Linked DNA regions of Homo sapiens: region 2 is linked to region 1. Evidence: fine-mapped expression QTL. Tissue or cell type: whole blood. Region 1 holds a variant in brackets; the other region holds the start of a gene. All regions are shown on one strand. Distances are from middle to middle.

The links. PIP is the estimated chance that this variant, and not a neighbour inherited with it, causes the effect.
Region 2: it holds the start of SECTM1, and the variant in region 1 is fine-mapped to the expression of SECTM1 in whole blood (INTERVAL, PIP above 0.99).

Annotation. Positions count from the first base shown.
Region 1 is chr17:82,352,404-82,360,501 of GRCh38, reverse strand. TEX19 (testis expressed 19) reads right to left here and starts at 1,255. Exons shown (of 2, transcript NM_207459.4): 1 at 1,217-1,255. RefSeq lists a silencer at 1-69 and enhancers at 3,678-4,613, 7,681-8,098. The variant T/C (reference allele first, on the strand shown) is at 3,293.
Region 2 is chr17:82,328,811-82,336,908 of GRCh38, reverse strand. SECTM1 (secreted and transmembrane 1) reads left to right here and starts at 3,143. Exons shown (of 5, transcript NM_003004.3): 1 at 3,143-3,209. RefSeq lists enhancers at 1,720-1,789, 3,837-4,639 and a silencer at 4,516-4,800.

The DNA.
Region 1 (8,098 bases):
GAGGGAACCTGAGGGAAACTGGGGGAACCTGAGGGAAACTTGAGGGAACCTGAGGGAAACTGGGGGAACCTGAGGGAAACTGAGGGAACCTGAGGGAAACTGGGGGAACCTGAGGGAAACTTGAGGGAAACTGGGGGAAACTGAGGGAAACTGGGGGAACCTGAGGGAAACTGAGGGAACCTGAGGGAAACTGGGGGAACCTGAGGGAAACTGGGGGAAACTGGGGGAACCTGAGGGAACCTGAGGGAAACTGGGGGAACCTGAGGGAAACTTGAGGGAAACTGGGGGAAACTGGGGGAACCTGGGGGAAACTGGGGGAACCTGAGGGAAACTGAGGGAACCTGAGGGAAACTGGGGGAACCTGAGGGAAACTTGAGGGAAACTGAGGGAACCTGAGGGAAACTGGGGGAACCTGAGGGAAACTTGAGGGAAACTGGGGGAAACTGGGGGAACCTGGGGGAAACTGGGGGAACCTGAGGGAACCTGAGGGAAACTGGGGGAACCTGAGGGAAACTTGAGGGAAACTGAGGGAACCTGAGGGAAACTGGGGGAACCTGAGGGAAACTTGAGGGAAACTGAGGGAAACTGGGGGAACCTGAGGGAAACTGGGGGAACCCGAGGGAAACTTGAGGGAAACTGGGGGAACCTGAGGGGAACTTGAGGGAAACTGGGGGAACCTGAGGGAAACTGGGGGAAACTGAGGGGAACTTGAGGGAAACTGAGGGAACCTGAGGGAAGCTGGGGGAAACTGAGGGAACCTGAGGGAAACTGAGGGAAATTTGAGGGAAACTGGGGGAAACTGAGGGAAACTTGAGGGAAACTGAGGGAACCTGAGGGAAACTGGGGGAACCTGAGGGAAGCTGAGGGAAACTTGAGGGAAACTGGGGGAACCTGAGGGAAACTTGAGGGAAACTGAGGGAACCTGAGGGAAACTGAGGGAAACTTGAGGGAAACTGAGGGAACCTGAGGGAAACTGAGGGAACCTGAGGGAAACTGAGGGAAACTTGAGGGAAACTGAGGGAACCTGAGGGAAACTGAGGGAAATTTGAGGGAACTTGGAGAACCTTAGGGAACCTGAGGGAAACTGAGGGAAATTTGAGGGAAACTGAGGGAACCTGAGGAATCCTGGCCCCGCTTCAGCCTCCCAACCCCTCACCCAGCACCAGGCCGTGTCTCCGAGACCCCTCCTCAGAGACCCCTCCTCGGGAGATCTCACCATCCTGGTGTCTCTGTTCATGTGGGCACCCAGGGAAAGGAGGAGGCAGAGCCCATTTGGGTATATAAAGGGCCATTTCCCATGGTGCTCTGGGCTCATCTGCATATCTCCCATGAGCCTCAGTTTCCAGGAAATGAAAGTGCTGAGTCACCAGCTCCCTCCAAGGAGGGCCATGTGCAGCCCCTGGGCACCTGCAGGAAGGCCCTGGAGAGGCAGCTCCTCTGGGGGCTGGAGATTGGGGTGGGTGCTCTCCGTCTGCAGGCTGGCACAGGGTGAGCATCCAGCCTGTGGTTGCTGGCCCGTCGTGGGCACGACGTCCTGGTCCTGCCGCGTTTGTAAAACGTGATCCCTGCTTTGCTGTCTCTGTCTTAAAGTTCTCTGAATTTTAAGAACCAGCCAATTGTCAATTAGTTATTGTTTAAACACATTTTCCCCTTTGTGGTTCATCTCTTCGCTCTTTAAACAAGACGCTTATAAATTAACACTTGTTTTTTCAGTAGACTCTATTTTTTACAGCAGTTTTAGGTTCATAGCAAAATTGAGCCAAAAGCATGGAGCTCTCCCACCGCTCCCCTGCTCCTGCAGGTGCACAGCCTTCCCCAGTCCTCCCGTCCCAGCCATTTGTTACACGTTGTTATTATCATCATCGCCCTCTGCAGTTTCCATTATGCTTTCCTCCGGTGCTGTGCATTCTGCAGGTTTGGACACATGTATAATCATGCAGACCCACCACTCTAATATTGTACAGACGGGTTTCTCCGCCCCGATTCATCTGTGTTCTGCATTTTCATCACTCCCTCTCCCAGCCCCTGGCAACCAGGAATCTTTTGACTGTCTCCTTAATTTTGCCTTTTCCAAAATGTCACAGAGCTGGACTCATACATTATGTAGCCTTTTCAACTTCTTTTTTAGTAATACGCACTTTGGTTCTTCCATGTCTTTTGTGGTTTGATAGTTCACTTCTTTTTTTTTTTTTTTTTTTTTTTGAGACAGAGTCTTGCTCTGTCACCCAGGCTGGAATGCACTGGTGAAATCACAGCTACTACAGCCTCAACCTCCTGGGCTCCTGTGATTTTCTCACCTCAGCCTCCCAAATAGCTGGGACTACAGGTGCTGGTGCACACCCCGATAAGTTTTGTATTTTTTGTGAGACAGGGCCTCACCATGTTGCCCACACTGGTATCAAACACTTGGGCTCAAGTGATCCGCCTGCCTCTGCCTCCCACAGTGCTGGGATTACAGACGTGAGCCACCTTGCATGGCCAGCTCACTTATTTTTTAACACTGAATGGTATTCCATTGTCTGGATGTACCATGGTTTATTTATCCATTCACCTATGGAAAGACATCTTGGTTGCTCCCAGGTTTGGGCAATTATGAATAAAGCTACTACAAATATTCATGTGCAGGTGTCTGTAGACATAAGTTCTCAACTCATTTTGGTAAACTCTAAGGAGTGAGATTGCTGGATGCTGTGGTCAGAGTGTGTTTAGTTTTGTAAGAAAGTGACAAATTGTCTCACACAGTGGCCCTGTGGGAGGAACCCCCAAACCCTTTCCCTACATCCCCATGACCTCTGCTCCTCCCCACCTGGCAGCTGTCTGTGCCTGGCTCAGGTCATCCACACACCTGGGGCTGCCTGCCACCCCCACCAGGTTAGGGCTCAGATCAGGGCCACCCCTCACCCTGGGGCTTCCTCGTCCCAGTCCTGGGATAGGGGCAGGTGTGGGGCTTTGGCTGCCAGGTGTCCTGCTGTGGGTGGAGAGGGCAGTGAGCTCATTCCCTAAAGACTCGGGTGCCTGAGCTGTCTGGCTGGTCCCCTCAGGTGAGAGGAAAGTAGTGGTTGAGGGACCCCACAGAGAAGCCTGTTTATGGGTCTGGGGGTCAGAGGCTCCCGGGAGGAGCCCCCAGGTCCTGGTTTTCTCTGAAAAGGCCACTCAAGGCCTCGGGGCTGAGCTGTGGCTGCCCTGGCCAGAAGGGGGCCGGGGAGGGAGCCCTGCACCTGTCGTGAACACTCAGGGCTGGGCCAGTGGGCGCCTGGAGGATGAGGTCCCTCCCACCTGGCCCCTCCCAGCC[T/C]CAGTTCTCAGGACACAGCCCAGCCGGCAGCTGCCAGAGTCACTGCCTAAAGGAGGTTTTGACCGAGGAGCAGCAGAGCCCTCTGAGGGCCCCTGTGGTAAGCAGGCTCCTCGCTGGTTTGCATGGCTTTTTCACACAGTAGTTGCGTCGAGAATTTAATATGCTGCGACCTCGTTGCCAGCAGGAGCGGTGTGGGACCGGGAAGCTGACGGGGAAGTGTTGGCGGGTGCAGGGCAGCGTCCACTCTGGGAAGCTGTGGCCAGCGCGTCCTGGCCAGCCAGGGCCTGGGCAGGGACTTGCCTCTCGGGCCTCGGCCTCACCCTGGTCTGAGAGTGTAGGACCCTCTCAAGGTCCTCAGTCACCTCAGCAGCCTGGGACGGAGCCTTTGGATCGCTTCCTGGGCAGCTGGGTACAGGAGAGGCCACTTGAGACAGATGTTGGGATGGACAGCTGGATTTGAGGCCCAGAGGGAAACCGTGGCAAGACTTGGTGGGTGGATGGTACCAGAGGAACAGGACGTGGCCATAATCGGGGAATCCAACACTCCTGTATCTCCAGAAGGACCAGGCATTTCCCCAGCTGCAGAGACCACTGATGGGGCAGCACAGCCATTGTGGGGCCAAGGCCATGACCCGGAGCCACTGGGGCCGTAAGCCTGACACCCAGATTGCCCACGAGCCAGAACCCCATCCCCACCATCCTGGGGTGCACAAGCTCTTGTGTTAGGAACGGGTGAAGAGGGGGAGCTCAGGAAGCTGAACGCAACCCAGAGGGGGTGGACAAGCAGGGACAAGGCTGCCAGATGGGCCTGGCCAAGCTCAGGGGCCCCCAGCTACCTCGGGGGTGCAGGTGCCAGCTGAGCCCTGCAGAGGAATGGGGTGAGGCCACGTCACGCTCTTTGAGCACCGGCTTCCGAGCTCAAGCGGCTTCGTCTCTGTCTCACCCAGAATGCCTCGCGCAGATCCGGGGCCCAGAGAACATTCCAGAGATGCTTGTGGAGTGGAGCAGCTTTAATAAGACACATTCTTGCTTCTCTGTTGGCTTCTTACCTGTGTCCTCGGGATGGCTGCCAAGGTGCTACCAACCTGCTGCATCCCTGGCTGAGGCTCAGAGCCTCCTGGGCTGGTGCCTTCCTGGGCACAGGATCCCCAGCAAGTCCAGGAATCTGACCTGAGGTCACCAATCATGCCCAGGGAAACCAGCCAGCCCCCAAAGCCTCCAAAACCCAAGTGGGCTTGGTTCTGTTGGCAGGTGACCCAGCTGGAATCAAACAAGAAAGAAAAGTGTGTTTAGATCATCAGGTGACTCACCAAATAGAACTTTCTTGAAAACTGTTTAATAATCAAGACCAGGAAAAGATTATGGAATATTCTAGCAAAGTCCAAGTACTTGGATTTTAAAATCAACATTTATCTTACTGCTCTTATATTACAAAGTTCCGCCCTCACCTCCAGTCTCAACGTTTGCACAAAGCATTTCAGCAGCACATGCAATGGCGTTATGGTTGGCTTTTCCCTCTCGCTCCTCCGCACAGCACTGAAGAAGGACAGGAGCAGTTTTCTTTGTTTCTTGCATGAATTTACTACTGAGGCTCGTCAGAGAGAGGCTGCCTGTGGGAGTGATGCATGGCCTCTGCTTCCACGGAGAAAAGCCACACGGTGGTGGCCAGGGGTGGGATGCGCCCGTGGACATGGAGGACAGATGTGTTCTGAGAAGCTGCCTGTTTCTTTTGTTTGTTTTTGAGATGGACTTTCACTTTTGTTGCCCAGGCTGGAGTGCAATGGCGCGATCTCAGCTCACGCCAACCTCCACCTCCCGGGTTCAAGTGATTCTCCTGCCTCAGTCTCCCAAGTAGCTGAGATTACAGGTGCCTGTCACCATGCCCAGCTGATTTTTGTATTTTTAGTAGAGATGGGGTTTCACCATGTTGGCCAGGATGGTCTCAATCTCTTGACCTCGTGATCCACCCGCCTTGGCCTCCCAAAGTGCTGGGATGACAGGCATGAGCCACCGTGCCCAGCCGAGGTGGCTTCTTTACAACAGACTATCCAGGGGACCACAGTCACCCTCCCCTCACTCCCAGCCCACCCTTCCTGCTCATTTGCTTTGTCCACCTACTCAGCTCCGTGGCCCATTGGTGGCCTCCATCCTTCTGAAGGACCAAGAAGCCACTGCCATGTGGAAGCACCTCCACGTGCCCTGGTCAGGTCTGTCACCAGTGCTGTGTGAGGATCAGAACACCCTCGACCACACTGGCTCATCATCCAAATTGTAATCATGGACTTAGAGGCTGTCCTTTTAAAAATAACTTTTGGTATTGTTTGCTTATTTCAAAGTAAACAAATTCATTATCAAACATTTAGAAAACAGGCAAGCAAATAAGAGGAAAGAACATCACCAGTCACACATTCTCCAGAGAGTGCAAAAAGCAAGGTCTCTGTATCTTACTCTCAAGTAGGAAGAATGGTTGCAGGAGAGGAAGGAAGGAGAGAGGGCCTGGGCGCTGTACCCGGCTGTGGCCAGCTCTGTCCTGAACCCTCCTGGGGTCTGTCCTGAACCCTCCTGGGCTCTGTCCTGAACCCTTCTGGGGTCTGTCCTGAACCCTCCTGGGGTCTGTCCTGAACCCTCCTGGGCTCTGTCCTGAACACTCCTGGGCTCTGTCCTGAACACTCCTGGGGTCTGTCCTGAACCCTCCTGGGGTGGGATTTCCATAAGGTGGGCATTATTATCTTCCCTGGGCTGGGCCAGAGCCTGGTTGGGGCCTGGGGCCCCATCCTGAGTCCAGAGTCTGTGACTCCTCCATAGGCCCCAGGGCCTGTGCAGTGACAGTCCCTGAGCAGCAAAAGAGCAAATGAGTGCTGGGAATTGTGGGTCCCTTCCCTAAAAAGGCAGAGGTGGTGATCCCGCCCAGCCCAGGGTCTTCAAAACTGCAGGTACATCCTTGCTGTTCTGTCAAACACATCTGCAGATAACTTGAGTCCATCTAGGGTGGGTTTCCAGGCAGCTGGGGACCAAGTGAGGGGGTGGAGGCGGCCACGTGAGACCCCAGGAAGCAGAGCCCCCACCACCCCAGGAGATTTCTTCATCCACAGTGGCAAGGGTGGGGGCTGCCCTAAGATGTCAGCAAAGACCACCATTGGGGAAGGTCTTGGACATGACTCTGAGTGGTCCCATGGGGAAAGGGGACTGGTGTCTCCTGGAGGGAGATGCTGGAAGAAGGCCAGAGAGGAAGGATGGCCAGAAGTCCCCATTTCCATAGCCCAAACCTGTGGAAACACTGCCCCTGGGCAGCTCTGTGCCCCTGGCGACCTCCTGGTATGATGCAGCTTAGAAAGAAGCTGCCTGTCTCTCCATTGCCAGCCTTTTCTGGAAGTCTGGGTGCCTTCAGGTTTGGGGATACTGAAACATCCTCCCAATATCCCAGGGCTCCTGGCCTTTGAACACCCGCGAGGGGCGGGGCAGCCACACACTTGGGGGTCACGTTCCCTGGGACTCTCCCCTCTTGGCTTCCCCCCATCACCCAGGGCCAGGGAGGCCGGGGCAGGTGCAGACCCAATCCTGGCAGTTGGCAGCGGTTTCCAGGCGCCTGCGTGACCCTGTCTGTAGCCTACAGGAGCAGGTGCTGCCTGTGATGGGGGCCCTGGGCTCCAGCAGATGTAGGAAGGTATGAGAGTGCAGCCACCCTCCTACACCCTCTCTCCCTAAGGCCTCCATAGTAGATTTAGGGTTCATGCTACTGGGTGAGATGGAGTTGAGGGAGGGCCCGCAGTTCTAAAGATCTGGGTCACACTTGGGCTATAGGGCCCTGTTAGCCATGAACTCCTTCATCAAATAAACCAAATGTGGAAGACGCATACCTGGGGCCCTGGTGCTTGATTTTGTTTTCTGCTCTCATCTCTCATCACCCTACAAAATGCATCTCCATAAAAAGACATTAAACAGCCCCGCACGGTGGCTCACGTCTGTAATCCCAGCACTTTGGGAGGCCAAGGCAGGTGGCTCACCGGAGGTCAGGAGTTCGAGACCAGCCTGGCCAACATGGTGAAACCCCGTCTCTACTAAAAATACAAAAATTAGCTGGGCATGGTGATGGGAGCCTGTAATCCCAGCTACACGGGAGGCTGAGGCAGAAGAATTGCTTGAACCCGGGAGGTAGAGGTTGCAGTGAGCCGAGATTGCGCCACTGCACTCCAGCCTGGGCAACAGAGTGAGACTCTGTCTCCAAAAAAAAAAAAAAAAAAAAAAGACATTAAATGAGACTAAGAAAAAAATGGCAAGTATTAAACATTTTGGGTAAATCAGAGCCATGTCATGCTGGCCTCACCCTCAGCCACCAGCTGCCTGCCCCCGCAGAGCCAAGCTCATTGCTGTCTGTCATCTGAGTGAGGGCACTGTGCATGATGAATAACACCTTTTTTTTGTTAAAAACAGCTTGAAATATTTACTTCAGTTTAATCTGTTCATTTTTAAATCAGAGCAAAACCAAAGTTGTGCAGAATGAGCTGGGAGATTAGGGGGCCTCAATCCTACTCCACAGGGACCCTGTCCACATGTGGCTCAATCCTGCTCCATAAAGACCCTAGCCACAGGCCGTGGCCCAACCCACATGGCCTGGACACACAGAACAACCCTCAAATCAACCCAGAAGCTCCAGATACTGGGCGTGCCCCCCACAGCCCTCGGCAACACCATAAACCCCACTTGGGGACACAATGGGGGCCACCGCCAGGCACACAAATGGCCCCAAAGGAGCATGGCCTCCCCCTCCTCTGCCCACTGGTCTGGATCCTACCTCCTAGGGGTGGG
Region 2 (8,098 bases), 24 kb after region 1:
CTTGGCCAGCCCGGGAGGAGGGGCCCAGCCTGTTGGGACAGGAGATGGGGTGCAGGTGGAAGGCTCCAAGAGGCATCTGGGCTGGTAACGCGCAGACATCCCAGGTGGGTTGGAAGTGGGTCAAGGAGGCCTGGAGGACCCGGTGCCTGTGGGGGTGGCAGGCGGGCCACATCCTCCACTAGAACCCGAGGTGGCGGCGGGGTCAAGGATGACGAGTTATCTTCGGGACATTAGGAGGAAGCCCCACAGGCTGCAGTCACGTGGGTGGGCAAGGATGAAAGGCAAGGGAACCCAGAGAATCAAGTTACAAAGAAAAGCAAATGCCGCCAGCACAGTGGCTCACGCCTGTAATCCCAGCACTTTGGGAGGCCGAGGCGGGTGGATTGCCTGAGCTCAGGAGTTCAAGAAAAAAAAAGCCTGGCTAACATAGTGAAACCCGTCTCTACCAAAAATAAAATAAATAAATAAATAAAAGCTGGGCGTGGCGGCACGTGCCTGTAGTTCCAGCTACTCAGGAGGCTGAGGTAGGAGAATCGCTTGAACTAGGGAGGCGGAGGTTGCAGTGAGCCGAAATCGCACCACTGCACTCCAGCCTGGGCGACAGAGCAAGACTCTGTCTCCAAAAAAAAGAAAAGCAAATGCTCCAGGACCTTGGGGATTTTAAGAATATGCTGCCGAATAATTTGGAGAGTTAAACAGAAAATCATAACTGAAATCTACAAATTCCTCGAACAGAAAGGAAATGAAACTCCACATGTCACCTGGCACAGCAGAGGCTGTGATTCAAGGACAGGCTGAGGGTGAATGAATCCACACATCCGCTCTAAGATGCCTGATCCCAGCATTGTATAGAAATGGAAAGATACGGCCGGGTGCAGTGGCTCACGCCTGTAATCCAGCACTTTGGGAGGCCAAGATGGGCGGATCACAAGGTCAGGAGATCCAGACCATCCTGGCTAACACGGTGAAACCCCGTCTCTACTAAAAATACAGAAAAATTAGCTGGGCGTGGTGGCGGGCGCCTGTAGTCCCAGCTACTCAGGAGGCTGAGGCAGGAGAATGGTGTGAACCCAGGAGGCAGAGCTTGCAGTGAGCCGAGATTGCGCCACTGCACTCCAGCCTGGGCGACAGAGCGAGACTCCGTCTCAAAACAAAAAAAAGAAATGGAAAGATACTGCCCAGATGTGGTGGCTCACACCTGTAACCCCAGCACTTTGGGAGGCCAAGGCAGGCGGACCACCTGAGGTCAGGAGTTCGAGACCAGCTTGGCCAACATGATGAAATCCTATTTCTACTAAAACTACAAAAATTAGCTGGGCGTGGTGATACATGCCTGCAATCCCAACTACTCAGAAGGCTGAGGTGGGAGAATCAGTTGAACCTGGGAGGCAGAGGTTGCAGTGATCGAGACTGCAGCACTGCACTCCAGCCTGGGCAACAGAGACTCCGTCTCAAAAAAAAGAAAGAAATAAACGTGAGTGGATGGCTGTGCTGTTTGTATGGACCAGGAAAACTTCTAGAAGGATAGGTAAGGCAGTGTCCATAACTCAACCTGGGAATTGAAGCCAGGGTGGGGAGGAAAAGGCAACAGTTGGTTTCATTCTATTTTGTTTCTGTGCCTGTATTACTTCCAAAATAAACAAACTAGTTTCACTTTCACAACATGAAATGCTTTATCAGGATATGCGTTTTCCTCCAACCCCCAGTGGTGTCCCCTCACGGGACAAAAGCCTGCCAGCCTTCAGCTGCCCTCCAGAGCCTCACGGTGCAGGTGCTCCTGCCTAAGCAGCCGGACCCCCCTGCCCCCAGGAACTGCAGCCCCCTCTGAGTTGAGAGATCTAGTAGGCAGGAAAAAAGGAGAAGGAAGCTGTGGCTGCTGGGGGATGTGGCCTCGGGGACAAGCCCCTCTGTGCAGAGGACGTGGGCAGGTGGGATTTCAGCCCCCTCTCCAGCATCTCACTGGCAGCCAGGGTGGCTGGGGTTTCCCCGAGGGCGGGGGCTGGGGAATCTGACCTCTGTGCCCCGGCCATGGTGCCGTCTTGCTGGGAGGATGACAGGCTGTGTTTCACCTGCCAATTTGGCGACAGTTTCTCTTTTGGAACATCCCGGGGGACTTTGTTCTGTGCCACCCACCTCTGGACCCTGGGTCTGATGGCTGAGCTGCAGGCTCCAAGGTTCAGCGTCCAGTCTGGCCCTGCTCCGTCCATTCCCCACATTTGAGGGTTTCCCGGAGTTTGGTTCTGCTTCTTCCTCTCTTCCATGAAACTGGGGGCATTGCCCACGCCCCAGTGTCCCCCATCATCTGCCCGGTGGGGACTTGCCCACTCACGTGACTGCAGCCTGTGGGGCCTCCTCCTAGTGTCCCGAAGATACCTGGTCATCCTTGACCCCGCCCGCACCTGCCCGCGTGCCCCCTCGGGTTCTAGTGGAGGACGTGGCCCGCCTGCCACCCCGCCAGGCGCCGGGTCCTCCAGGCCTCCTCGAGCCACCTCCTGCCCACCTGGGATGTCTGTGGGTTCCCGGCCCGGATGCGTCTTGGAGCCTTCTACCCGCACCCCAATCTCCTGCCCCAACAGGCTGGGCCCCTCCTCCCGGGCTGGCCAGGCCAGCACCTCCGCAGGGGCCGCAGGACGCCTGAAGGCCCAGGCCGCAGGTGCAGGACCCTCTGCGGGGGAGCTGGGGGACATCACTCCTCTGCTCTGCGCGCTTTTATGAAAGGGCCTCTGACCCTCCGGGGGTCCAGCTCACTCTGCCCGCGCACTCCCAGGCATCTGGGGGCCGCCCCCCGCCCTCCCTCCCCGCGGCCCACTCGGCCCGCCCAGCTCGCCCCGTGCACAGACTCGAGGCCTCCAGGAGCGGAGCCAAACAGCCCCGCGGGGAACGCGCGCCGCACGCGAGCTGGACCCGCCCAGGCACGAACTCTCCTGGAAAAATGCTCCCGGCGGCTTTCCTGCTTCCTTTAGCGTGAACCGCGGGTGCGGTGCCTCCCGTGAAAATAATAAATTCACCGTCACGCTTGTTGTGAACGCGGGTGGTTCCCGAAACTTGGAGGCTTCCCGTAAACCCAGCTCCTTCCTCATCTGGGAGGTGGGTCCCGCGCGGGTCCGCCGCCTCCTCCCTGGCCCCTCCCTCTCGTGTCTTTCATTTTCCTGGGGCTCCGGGGCGCGGAGAAGCTGCATCCCAGAGGAGCGCGTCCAGGAGCGGACCCGGTGAGGCGCGGAGAGGGGCGGGCGGGGGAACCAGAGGGGCGGGCTCGGTGCTGGGGACTCGGTGCTGGGGACTCGGTGCTGGGGACTCGGTGCTGAGGGCCCGGTGCTGGGGACTCGGTGCTGGGGGCTCGGTGTTAGGGCCTCTTGGTGCACTGGGGTTGCCGGTCCGCGCAGGGATGGGGACTCTGGGGCTGCGGCGCCTCTGCCTCTGGGACCGTCACCCCCCGCTGGCCCTGAGCGTGCGTCGCAGGCCAGGCGGGCGGGGTCGCAGCGGGCGTACCCGAGTATGGGCGGGAACGAGCTGCCGGCCGGTGTGGGGACCCGCGTCCCTGCCCTGTGCGCCAGGCTCGACTCTTGAAGGGACAGAGGCGGCGTCTCGGACCCGGGGCTCCCCTAAGTCCGATGGGTCGGAGCCCCCTCCTCCCTTCCCGGTCCTCGGCCTCACCCGGGGTTCCCTGCGCCGTCGCTGCGACCAAGCTGGGAGCAAAACGCACTCGCTCATATGCGTGCACACAAGCTGGTGGACACACGCACATGAGCACACGCAGGCACGCGTGGACTGTTGCACACTCCACAGCCACAGCCTCGTGTGCACTCACAGCAAACTCATGAAACAGGAACCGTGAGGCTTCCCTCACCCGGCAGGCCCTCAGCTGCCCGTTCTCACGCGGGTTTTGCTGACTCCGCAGTAATCACCACATTCAGTTCCTTGCCCACTACTGGTGAATCACCTGCAGCTTGAGAAGCACGTTTTCTGCCGGTGGTCAGCAGAGGATCCCCGGCTTCTAGGAGGCCCAGGGCGACCGGCTGCAGGAGCCCGCGTAGGAGGCCTGTCTCCAGCAGGGCGGGGGTGGTGGCAGGGCCTCTCCACGGGGCTGCTGCTGAGCCCAGAGCGGGAGGACAGGAGGCCACCAGCAGAGGGGACAGGTGAACAGGTGCTGAGCAGGAAGGGTTAGCCCGGTCTAGCCCCAGGCCTGGGGGGCTTTGCTGCTCACCTGGGGTCCCCTCTGGGCCTGGCTCAGCAGAGACCAGGGCAGAGCCGTCCACACCGTGGGCCTGGGTGGGGTCCATGGCCTCTGCAGGCTGCAGCTGTCTTCTGAGAGGTGTTGGTGTGCTCATTCTCGGTAGAGACGTGGGGTCACCTGTGTTCCCTGAGCCCCTGCAGCAGCTGGGAAAGCAGTGTCAGCCACCCCTCAGGTGCTGTGGGGGTACAGAGTCCACTGACCACACAGGAGGACCCCAATGAACCCAGCCCGAGGGGGCCGGAGCTTCCACACACCCAGCACCCATGGGAGCCGGGACAGGCAGGCGCCCGGGGCACCAGGGAGCGGGAACAGGCATGCGCAGGCGTGCTGGGCGGTGCGTGAACTTTCCTAGGCGTGTCACTGGCATGGCTCCAAGCCTGCGCATCATCGCTTGTCAGGGAGCACTCAGACCCTGCCGTGTCTGGTGCCGGCGCCTCAGATACCGACCCCTGTGTTCGTGGTTTGAGAGAAATCTGATTGCCGCCTCCATCTTTTCCCGCTCTAGAAGTTTGTTTTTTGTTTTGTTTGGTTTGAGACGGAGTTTCGCTCTTGTTGCCCAGGCTGGAATGTAGTGGCCAGATCTTGGCTCACCACAACCTCCACCTCCCTGGTTCAAGCGATTCTCCTGCCTCAGCCTCCCAAGTAACTGGGATTACAGGCGTGCACCACCACGCCCGGCTAATTTTTTTGTATTTTTAGTAGAGACGGGGTTTCACCACGTTGTTCAGACTGGTCTCAAACTCCCGACCTCAGGTGATCCACCTGCCTCAGCCTCCCAAAGTGCTGGGATTGCAGGCATGCGCCACCGCGCCCGGCCCACTCTAGAAGTTTTGAGGCTCCGTGCGCCTCGTCTCCCTGTACCTGGTCTCCCTGTGCCAGGTCTCCCTGTGCCACACACGGAGCTGCCCGGCCAGTCACCGCCCACCTGGCCACTTTCCCTGGGGCCGCGCCCTGCCGCCTGCCCTCTCTCTGATTTTTAGCCACTGCGTGGCATTCAACTCAAGCCCACGCCTCTGGTCAGGAGGATGGCAGGAGAGGACTCAGGCAGACGGGCAGAGTGGCAGAGCTGCCAACAAAAACGCAGGATACCCAGTAACATCTGAGTTTGAGATCGTTAATCGTGTTTTAATATAAGTGTGTCCCGAGTGTCCCACGGGACAAGCTTTCACCAGGACATCATTGGTTGTTTATCTGAGACTCAGATGTGACCAGATGTGCCTGGTGACCTGAGAGGGGCCTGTGTTGCCAGGGTGCGTTTTCTTCTGATAAACGGAGCAAATTCCCACAGCAACCCAAAGTCGCTGACACCTGCTGCCCAGACAGAGCTGGGGCCACGCATGGTCCGCAGCCTGAAGCCTCGGGGTAGAGCCAGACCTGCCGCTCTCCTCCCGGTCTCCCCCCAGCTCCCTACCCCCTGAGCCCTTCAAAGTCATTCTCAAGCCAAAGACAGGGGTCTTCCAGGCCCAGGGCTCCCCTCCACGGCTGACTCATTCCACACCTTTCCCGCCACTTGCCGGGTGTGGACCGACAGGAAGGGCACCGCCACCTGCTCCTAGTACCCTCCAGCCCATCCCTTGCCGCCCTTCACCCCTGGCTGGACAAGGGTCAGGGTCGCCAACATTGGAGGGCACTCAGTGGGGAGCTGGTGAAGGTGCTGGGAGGAAGGGAGGACCGGGGAGAGGCAGTGAGAGGACCCGCGTGTGAGAAGCAGCGGCCGCCACCACAGTTGGGCTAAAGGGACTTGGTGGGGAGGCAGCATCTCCGGAACGGTGCAGTCCAGGCCGCCAGGGGCTGAGACCATGGAGAGGATGAGGCCAGAAAGACGGACAGTGCCAGCTTCTCACTCCCACCCCCCTCTCCCCAACCACTGCAGCCCAGGGCCCCAGGTCTTCAGGAAGCAATCGGCAGGGAGGCTAGGAGCCAGCACTGCAGGGTCCACCCTCGGTGGCAGAGGCATCTAGGAGCAGCTGTAGCCCCCGAGAGCAGAGGCTCCACCGAGCTGCTGGCCCCATGGAATGCACAGCGGGCAGACTTGGGACACTCAGGGTGGAGGGGAGGCAGATGCAGCCACTGCCAGGCGGGAGGAGCTTGGCATGAAGCCAGGTGCGTGCAGCTGGCCCTTGGGGGCCTCCAGGACCCAGCTGCTGAGGTCTGGCTCAGGGTGCAGCTCTCTGCCGAGTCAGGGCTGACTCAGGACACAGACGGGTGGCAGAGCCAGCACCTGGGTGGGCAGGTGGGGTGGACGCAGCGCTGTCGGGGCTCTCTGGGGATCTGTGACCTTTGGCTGTGTGCCCAGAATTCCCACCCCTAACACATGGCAGGGGCAGTCCCTGGAAGCATTTGTGAAACAGACTCAGATGGCCTCCAGGCTCCAGGTGAGGGCAGGACTCCCCAGAGCAGCCTGGGGAGAGCAGCAGGGCATCCCCTCCCGGACACGGTCGGCGGGGTGGTGCGGAGAGCAGTGGGGGAGCCCCCAGCAGCCCCGACCCTCCCTGCTGTCCATCTGCACGGTTCCAAGGTGGGTGGCTGAGCTGGCATCGTGGAGCGTGGGGTGAGGGAGCCGGACCCAGGCCCCCTGGGGTCTCCTTGTGTGAACCTCACCTCCATGCAGGGGTCTGCAGGTGGCCTGGGTCTCCCACCGCACTGGGGGTGGGGGTTCTGTGGTCGGCTACCAGTCCCCAAAGATGTCACGTCCTCATCCCAGAACCTGACATGGCAAAGAGACTATGCAGATGGGATGAAGCCTCGGGTGCTGAGCTGGGGCATGTGTCCTGGGTCACCCAGGGGGGCCCTTGATGCCATCACAGGGTCTCCAGGAGAGGGAGAGAGGAGGGGGAGTCAGGGAGATGAGGGAAGCAGCTGGGGGGCAGTGGTGGGGAGATGGCAGAGGGGCCATGAGCCGAGGGATGCGGATGCCTCTGGACGCTGGAGACGGAGAGGGACAGATTCCGCCTGGAGCCTCCAGAAGGGACCACCCTGACCCACCCCTTGATTTTAACCCAGGGAGACCCCGTCGGACTTCCAGCTAATCTAGAATGCTGGACGTATGATGGGAGATGGGGCCCGAGCCTGTCTCCAAGCCCATCTGAGCAGCCCTGAGGGGTCACAGCAGGAAAGGGGGTGTTAGTGAGGGGCCACAAAAGGTCTCAGGTGTGGGTTCCCTCCCCTTGCACTCAGCCCTGACAGGGTGGGGTGGGGTTTCCAACAGAAGGGACTGGACTTGTACTGAGCATAGCGGCTGCCTGGAGTGGGGAACCCAGACCTCAGGACACGGCACCCGCAGCCTGCGCCAATGTGGGACCATCCCTGAGCCTCAGCAGCACCTCGGGGTTGGTGACGTGCCTCCCAGCAGTGACAGTGTCCCCACACCTGCACTCTGCGGCTGGCAGGGTCTTCCACGTGGAGGCAGGACCATGGTGAGAGTATGGGAATGACCGGGTGGCTGCCTGTGGCTGTGCAGGGCCCAGGGATGACTAGAGGCATGTTCACAGGGGGTTGGAGCGCTTGGGGCAATGGGACGAGAAGGCCGGAGCCCGTCTGCAAGCCAGGTCCTCAGCAGGCCCAGACTCCAGGCTCCAGGAGGACCCCTGGTAACATGGGGTCCCCGGGGTTGGTGACGTGTCCTGCTGTGACACTTTCTGGTGGTTTATTTGTTTGGAGAAACACACATCTATAAATCTATAGACATCTATAAATAGCACGTCTGAAGGTCGCTTTACAGAGTTCCCTCATGGGAGTTCCCTGCAGGTCATCTGCACTCCGGCGTGTGGGCTGCACTGGGAGCTGGGAGAGGCAGGGCTGGAGTTGCCGCCCTACCTAGGGACTTTTCCTAGCAGGGGTGCAGGCACCCGAGAGGCAGGGCAG